Linked DNA regions of Homo sapiens. The protein of the gene in region 1 interacts with the protein of each later gene in a biochemical or structural test. Each region holds a gene or a part of one and is shown in the gene's direction. Other genes may lie near its edges.

Region 1 (3,500 bases):
GGCCTGTGTTCACACTAGTTCTGTCCAGCCCCTCCCTGTGAGGCCAGCTCCAGCCCCAGCGCATGGTGACCATCCCGTTACCCATGGGCAGGATGCACTCCTCTCAGTGGCTGGCGAGGCGCAGCCTGGTGCGGGCGCCACGGGGTCGGGCTGTGATCGCCTGTGGCCTCCCTGCAGGGCTGTGACTCCCTGACGCAGATCCAGTGCGGCCAGCTGCAGAGCCGCAGGGCCCAGATTCACCAGCAGATTGACAAGGAGCTGCAGATGCGGACGGGCGCTGAGAACCTCTACAGGTCAGTGCTTGAGACTGCCCGGCCCCGGGAGCAGGGCCCACCTGGGTGAGGGGGGCAGGACAGCCACGCAGGCAGATGTCTGCCCCATGGCCGGGTCACAGAGACAGGTGCATGAGCAGCTGGGTCCTGGTGGGCACGTAGTACACGTGATGCTCAGCCATGACCCTCACAGACCTGCCTCCGTGGGCCTCTGTGCTGGGCTGGAGGTGCCAGGAAACCAGTGTCCCTGCCGGGTGTGCAGCTTGGGAAGCCCCAACAGTGCACGTGGGGGCTTCTCAGAAGAGGCATGGTTGAGGCTGAGCTGTGGCAGGTGATGGCGCGTCCCAAGGTTGGGGACCTGGGAGGGGGTGGAAGACCTGGGCTGCCTCTTCCTTAGAGCACACCGCCTGTGTGCCACACATGTGCGTGTGAGTGCCCCTCGGTCCCCTTAGCACCTGCTACCTCCCTGCCCCCATCCTGGCCTTCCCTGGGGACCTCCGGTCCCTTTGCCAGGCCCTGATGCAGGCACAGAGAGGTGTGTGGCTCTCACCCACCATCCAAGGAGTGATGTTTGAGTGCTGTCGAGGGCTGTATGAGCCCCAAAGAAAGCCGTGGTGCTGAGGGAGGTGCCCCCAGGCCAGAGTCGGAACATGCAGGTGCTGGGGTCGGGGTGATGAACTGTAGGGGGCATCACCTGTGAGCCCCCGGATCCCACTGCTGCCCCTGCCCCACCCATGGGGGGCAGACCCTGTCAGCGACGTCCTCTGCAGGGTGGGCTTGGAGCTTTGACAGGTCAGCTGGCAGGACGGCTGCAGTGGGCACGGGGCCTTTGGCTCTGCCTTGGGGCTGGGCTTTCAACTGCCGCGGCCTCCCTCAGAGCCACCAGCAACAACCGGGTGAGAGAGACGGTCGCCCTGGAGCTGAGCTACGTCAACTCCAACCTGCAGCTGCTGAAGGAGGAGCTGGAGGAGCTCAGCGGTGGCGTGGACCCTGGCCGGCATGGGAGGTGCGGGTGGGGGCCGGGACAGCACGTGCGTGTATGTGTGTGCACGTGTGCGTGTGTGTGTGCATGTGTGTGCACGCATGTGTGTCTCTGTGTGTATATGTGTGCATTGTCTGTGTGTGTGCGTGTGTGCATGTGTGTGCATGCATGTCTGTGCGCGTGTGTCTGTGTGCATGTGTCTGTGCATCTCTGTGTGTGTGCGTGTGTCTCTGTGTGTATATGTGTGTGCATGTGTGTGCATGCGTCTGTGTGCGCGTGTGTCTGTGTGTCTGCATGTGTCTGTGTGTGCATCTCTGTGCGTGTGTCTGTGTGCACGTGTCTGCGTGCGTGTGCATGTCTGCGTGTATGTGGGTGTGTGTTTGCCTCTATGTGTGCGTGTATGCACGTGTGTCTGTGTGTGTCTGTGTGTGCGCGTGTGTGTGTCTGCACGTGTGTGCATATATGTGTGTGCGTGCGCATGTGTGTCTGCATGTGTATGCACGCATGTGTTTGTGTGTGTGTGTGCGCGCGCATGTGTGTGTCTCTGTGTGTGTGTGTTTGCTTTTGGGGCGGTTTAGGACGGTGGGGGGTGGTGCACAGGTGCAAGGATGCCCCCCAGGACACAGGCGCACGTGCACACCCATGAGGGAGGGAGGCACCCTGTGCCACAGAGCCCTAGGAGTGGACCCCGGGCTGCCGTGGGCAGCAGGGTTTGGCCTTACAGTCTGAAGTCGATGCTTCTGGTTACAGCGAAGCTGTCACTGTCCCCATGATCCCCCTGGGCCTGAAGGAGACCAAGGAGCTGGACTGGTCTACACCGCTGAAGGTAGGTACTGGCCTCCAAGCTCTGAGATACACGGCCCTGCCCTGGGACCAAGGGGGTCTTGGAGGCTTTCTGGTCCAGCTGTCTGGTTGAACAGATAGGGAAACTGAGGCCCAGAGGGAGGGAGGCTTAAAAGGGACGCAAGGGACCTGGCAGAAATGGCCACAGGGACCCAGCCTCTGCTGCGTTCAGGGCCCCGCTGGTGCCTGCGCCCCAGGCCGGGGCTGATCCCATAGAGTGGGTGTGAACATGTGCCCTACCCTCGGATGGGCAATGCCCTAGGAGGATGGGGCCTGGAAGCCCCAGCCGGAGCACAGGGTACAGGCTCGCCCATGGAGGGCACCACTGGCTTGGGGCCACACACCCAGCACTGGCTCACGAGGGTCCTGGGGAGAGCTAGAACAGACTGGCACTGCCTGGCAGGGCCCCACGGGAGCCACTGACTGTGTTCCGTGTCCGAGTCACTGAGTGGCAGATGGCACCTGCCTCCCGGCCACGGGGATGAATAAGGAAACGCACGTAAAAGTAGCGCTGAGTCTCCAGGCCCCGCTTCTGTGATGGGGTGGGGAAACCCCAGGGCCACAGGGGCTCCGACCCGCATCAACCCACCAGGCCCCTCCATACACATTGGCCCCCAGCCCTTCTCTGGGGCTTCCACTGAGGGGCCCAGGGCCCCCACGCTGCATGGCAGCCAGCCTGCTCTGCGGCACAGACCCTCCCTCCACCATGAGTCTTTTCCCAAGGTGGGTTGGGAGACCTCAGGGAAGGAGGCCAGGCACAGGGGTACTGTGGATGCCAACACCTGCCCCCCATCAGGAGCTGATCTCAGTGCACTTTGGAGAGGACGGCGCCTCCTACGAGGCAGAAATCAGGGAGCTGGAGGCCCTGCGGCAGGTGTGTGGTTCCCCCGCCCACCCACCCTCCTGCAGCCCTGGGAGACACATGCGGAGGCTGAAGCTGAAGTCAGGAACAGACAGAGGAGCTCAGCGTAGACATCTCGAGGACGTGGGGAGACGGGCGCACCAGGGGCCCTGTGTGTCCAGACCCAGCCAGGGGGCGTGGAGGGGCTCCCAGGTGGCTCCGGTGCCGCATGCTGCTGGCCTTCGGGAGTCACGGCTGCCCAGGGCCCCACTGGCTTTGCCTCCCCGCCCCCCATGGTGCTGGTGCCCATGGGACTTCCCAGGGCAGTGTGTGTGAGTGGGGTGGGCCAGGGCGGTGGGGCCCAGTGGCTCCTGCCCTGCAGGCCATGCGGACCCCCAGCCGGAATGAGTCGGGCCTGGAGCTGCTCACAGCCTATTACAACCAGCTGTGCTTCCTGGATGCGCGCTTCCTCACCCCTGCCAGGAGCCTCGGGCTCTTCTTCCACTGGTAGGGGCTCTGCGGGCGGAGGCACCCTGGGGAGGGGAGGCCCAGCTGCGGGAAC
Region 2 (3,500 bases), on another chromosome or scaffold:
GAAAGAAATTACTGCAAACTGGGGGGCTTAAGACAACACACATTCATTCTCCTGCGTTTTCGGGGGCCTCGTGTCTGCAGTCAGTGTGACCTGGCTGATGGCAGGTGTGGCAGAGCTGGTTCCTCTGGTGACTTTAAGTCTGCTTCCTTCACCTTTCCGGCTTCTGGAGGTGACCGCCTGCCCGTCTGCCTGGGCTCGAGACCCATCCTTGAATCCCTGCAGTCTCCGCATCCTTCCTCATGTGGCCGTCCCCTCTGGCTCTGACCCCAGGCTCACACAGGCGCACCCCACACTCTCCCCATCTCTAGAGCCTTCACGTGGTCACGTGGATGGGAGGAGCCATCCAAAAGCTTGGGAGTGAGGATGTGGGTGTATCAGGGGCCATCAGCCAGCCTGTCACACCTCTTAAGAAGATCGATCCCCAGACGTGTTTCTTGGCCAACTTTTACATTTATTTATTTATTTTTTAATGATGATTTTTAATAATTTTTAATTATTAAAAAATTATAAAATAATTTTAATTATTTTATTTTTTAAATTCATTTTTTAATGATTTTAAATAGTTAAATGCCCAGTCCTAATATTTAAATTATTAATACAGTACTACTTAGATATTGAGTAATGTAATTTATATTCATTTTTTACTCTTTTCCATCAAAACATAATTTTACTAAGTACGCATGTTCTGTGTCCGTGTTTTGTCATCACTGAAGCCACTTTTGGAGTCACCTAGTAATAGCCTTTCCACTCTATCTAGTTCTGTAGCTTTTATGTGTGTAAATTACTTCAAATCTGTTTATGATCCTATTGCTGGAAACTTTATCCCAAGACACAAAAATCTTTTCTATTAGAAGTTATTAACTTTAAAACAATTATTTATTTTATTTTATTTTATTTTTTGAGACAGAGTCTCGCTTTGTCACCCAGGCTGGAGTGCAGTGGCACGATCTCGGCTCACTGCAAGCTCCACCTCCCGAGTTCATGCCATTCTCCTGCCTCAGCCTCCCGAGTAGCTGGGACTACGGGCGTCCGCCACCATGCCCAGCTAATTTTTTTTGTATTTTTGGTAGAGACAAGGTTTCACCGTGTTAGCCAGGATGGTCTTGATCTCCTGACCTCGTGGTCCACCTGCCTCGGCCTCCCAAAGCGCTGGGATTATAGGCGTGAGCCACCGCACCTGGCCTAAAACAATTATTTCTTTAAAAAAACATACCCTCTATTCTATTTTGTGTCTTCACAACACAATCACTTACTGTATTGCTTTTTAAAGTGATCTTTAAAGAGTCTTGCAGAAGAGACTACACAGCAGGCCCGAGACCATCCTGAGAGGCCTGTGTGCAAGGCTGGCCCCCCGCTGGTGTCAGGACGGTGCCCACCACCCTCAATGAAGAGGGGCTCCCTGTGCTTAGCTGCTTGTGTGGGGAACAAGGTTTGTGCTGAGAACCTTCCTTTCTTCTGGGAGTCCAGAGTCTGGGCACGAAGCAGGCAGAGGGTGCCCATGTGCCCAGCCCCCAGTAAAAACCCTGGCACCGAGTCTCTAGTGGGCTTCCCTGGTGACGACACTGCACATGCGTTGTCACGGCTCACTGTGTAGGGAGTTAAGTGCGTCCTGCGTGACCCCGCTGGGAGAGGATTCTGGAAGCTCAAGCCTGGTTTCTTTGGGACATCGCCCCATGGACCTCTGCCCTTGCTGATTTTGTGTGGAATCCTTTCGCTGTAATGAATCTCAGCTGTGAGAGCACCTTTGTGCCAAGTCCTGGGAATCCTAGGGAATCACTGGCCTGGGGGTGATCCGCGGACCACTGACAAGTTTGTTCTCAATGACAACCAATACTTTTATACCCCCTGGAAGAATTGAGTTAATATGACATTTCTGCTTTTTTAGGTGGTGGTTTTTATCTAGCCTGTTGAGTGGCCTCTGCAGTATTGATCGAGGTTGTTTCAGGCTAATACGTTTTCCCCCACACAGTATATTCAAAATAAATTAATGTGGGAGGGTCATGGAATATTAGGTGACCCCTCTCCTGAGGGAAAACTCTATGTCAGGGGATTTATGATCAACTAAGGGGTTAGACTCAGTGTTCTGCAGGTGCCTTTGAACCTGAAGCCTGTAGCAGGCCTTGCTTCTCACGCTTGGACTCTGCCATCCTGTGAAACGTGGGTTTGGGTGTGTTTCTTCTGTGTGGAGCCCGAGAGTCTGCCTTTCAGACGGGCTGCCAGTCCACGGACCACACTTTGAGTAGCAAGGGGCTCTTTCCATCCAAACAGGGTGTGGAAGCAGTGCTGGGAAGCAGTCCTGCATCCTCACACCCGTGGCAGGTGGGCCTGGCAGGAACTTGTGTGGTAACAAGGTAGCAGTTGTGGGAGACATTTTCTACTCCGAAAGGAAGTTTCTTAGCCTGACTTGAAGATTTATTATCTATAGACACTTAGAGGCTCTTTCTGTGGTGGTTTTTATTATGAATTATCTTTTTGTGTTTAGCTAATACCAGTGAGTGGTGGAGAAAGATGGGCTCTTTAATAATGAGCTGTTCGTTTTTCTTTCTTAGGGCACTGTTTGAAGAAGCAAACATGGTAGCATCAAGCATTCCTTGAAATATGGCTCCAAGGGAACAATGAGACGTGCTCTTGGTCTTGGAAGCTCATCAGAATGTTTAGAGCTGGGGAGGCCTCCAAACGCCCATTGCCTGGGCCGTCGCCCCCAAGGGTGCGGAGTGTGGAGGTTGCCCGGGGGAGGGCCGGCTACGGATTCACGCTTTCGGGACAGGCACCCTGTGTGCTCAGCTGCGTCATGAGAGGGAGCCCTGCGGATTTCGTGGGCCTCCGAGCTGGAGACCAGATACTTGCTGTCAATGAAATCAACGTGAAAAAAGCATCTCATGAAGATGTAGTGAAATTAATTGGGAAGTGCTCTGGTGTCCTTCACATGGTGATTGCTGAAGGCGTCGGCCGCTTCGAATCCTGTTCCAGTGATGAAGAAGGGGGACTCTATGAAGGAAAAGGCTGGCTGAAGCCCAAGCTGGATTCTAAAGCACTAGGTATAAACAGAGCAGAGCGAGTCGTGGAGGAAATGCAGTCTGGTGGAATTTTCAATATGATTTTTGAAAACCCGAGCCTTTGTGCGAGCAATTCAGAGCCCTTGAAATTGAAACAAAGATCCCTTTCAGAGTCGGCCGCAACTCGATTTGATGTTGGACATGAAAGTATAAATAATCCAAATCCCAACATGCTTTCTAAGGAGGAAATATCAAAAGTTATTCATGATGATTCGGTTTTCAGCATTGGACTAGAAAGTCATGACGATTTTGCATTGGATGCAAGTATTTTAAACGTGGCGATGATCGTGGGCTACTTAGGCTCCATTGAGCTTCCTTCCACGAGCTCCAACCTGGAGTCCGACAGCTTGCAAGCCATCCGCGGCTGCATGCGGCGCCTGCGGGCAGAGCAGAAAATCCACTCGCTGGTGACCATGAAGATCATGCACGACTGTGTGCAGCTGA

Evidence for each region. Proteins that work in one complex are often made in the same cells at the same time.
Region 2: the proteins of RHPN1 (region 1) and RGS12 interact in a test that uses a peptide from one of them, tested with the Homo sapiens proteins (one large-scale study listed by IntAct).

What each region holds. Positions count from the first base shown.
Region 1 is NC_000008.11:143,375,376-143,378,875, forward strand, and holds part of RHPN1 (rhophilin-1), read left to right. Parts: intron 1-177; coding exon 178-293; intron 294-1,149; coding exon 1,150-1,278; intron 1,279-2,004; coding exon 2,005-2,080; intron 2,081-2,893; coding exon 2,894-2,971; intron 2,972-3,320; coding exon 3,321-3,445; intron 3,446-3,500. UniProt on the Homo sapiens protein: Has no enzymatic activity. May serve as a target for Rho, and interact with some cytoskeletal component upon Rho binding or relay a Rho signal to other molecules.
Region 2 is NC_000004.12:3,313,521-3,317,020, forward strand, and holds part of RGS12 (regulator of G-protein signaling 12), read left to right. Parts: intron 1-1,290; exon of another isoform or gene 1,291-1,429; intron 1,430-2,549; 5' UTR 2,550-2,650; coding exon 2,651-3,500. UniProt on the Homo sapiens protein: Regulates G protein-coupled receptor signaling cascades. Inhibits signal transduction by increasing the GTPase activity of G protein alpha subunits, thereby driving them into their inactive GDP-bound form.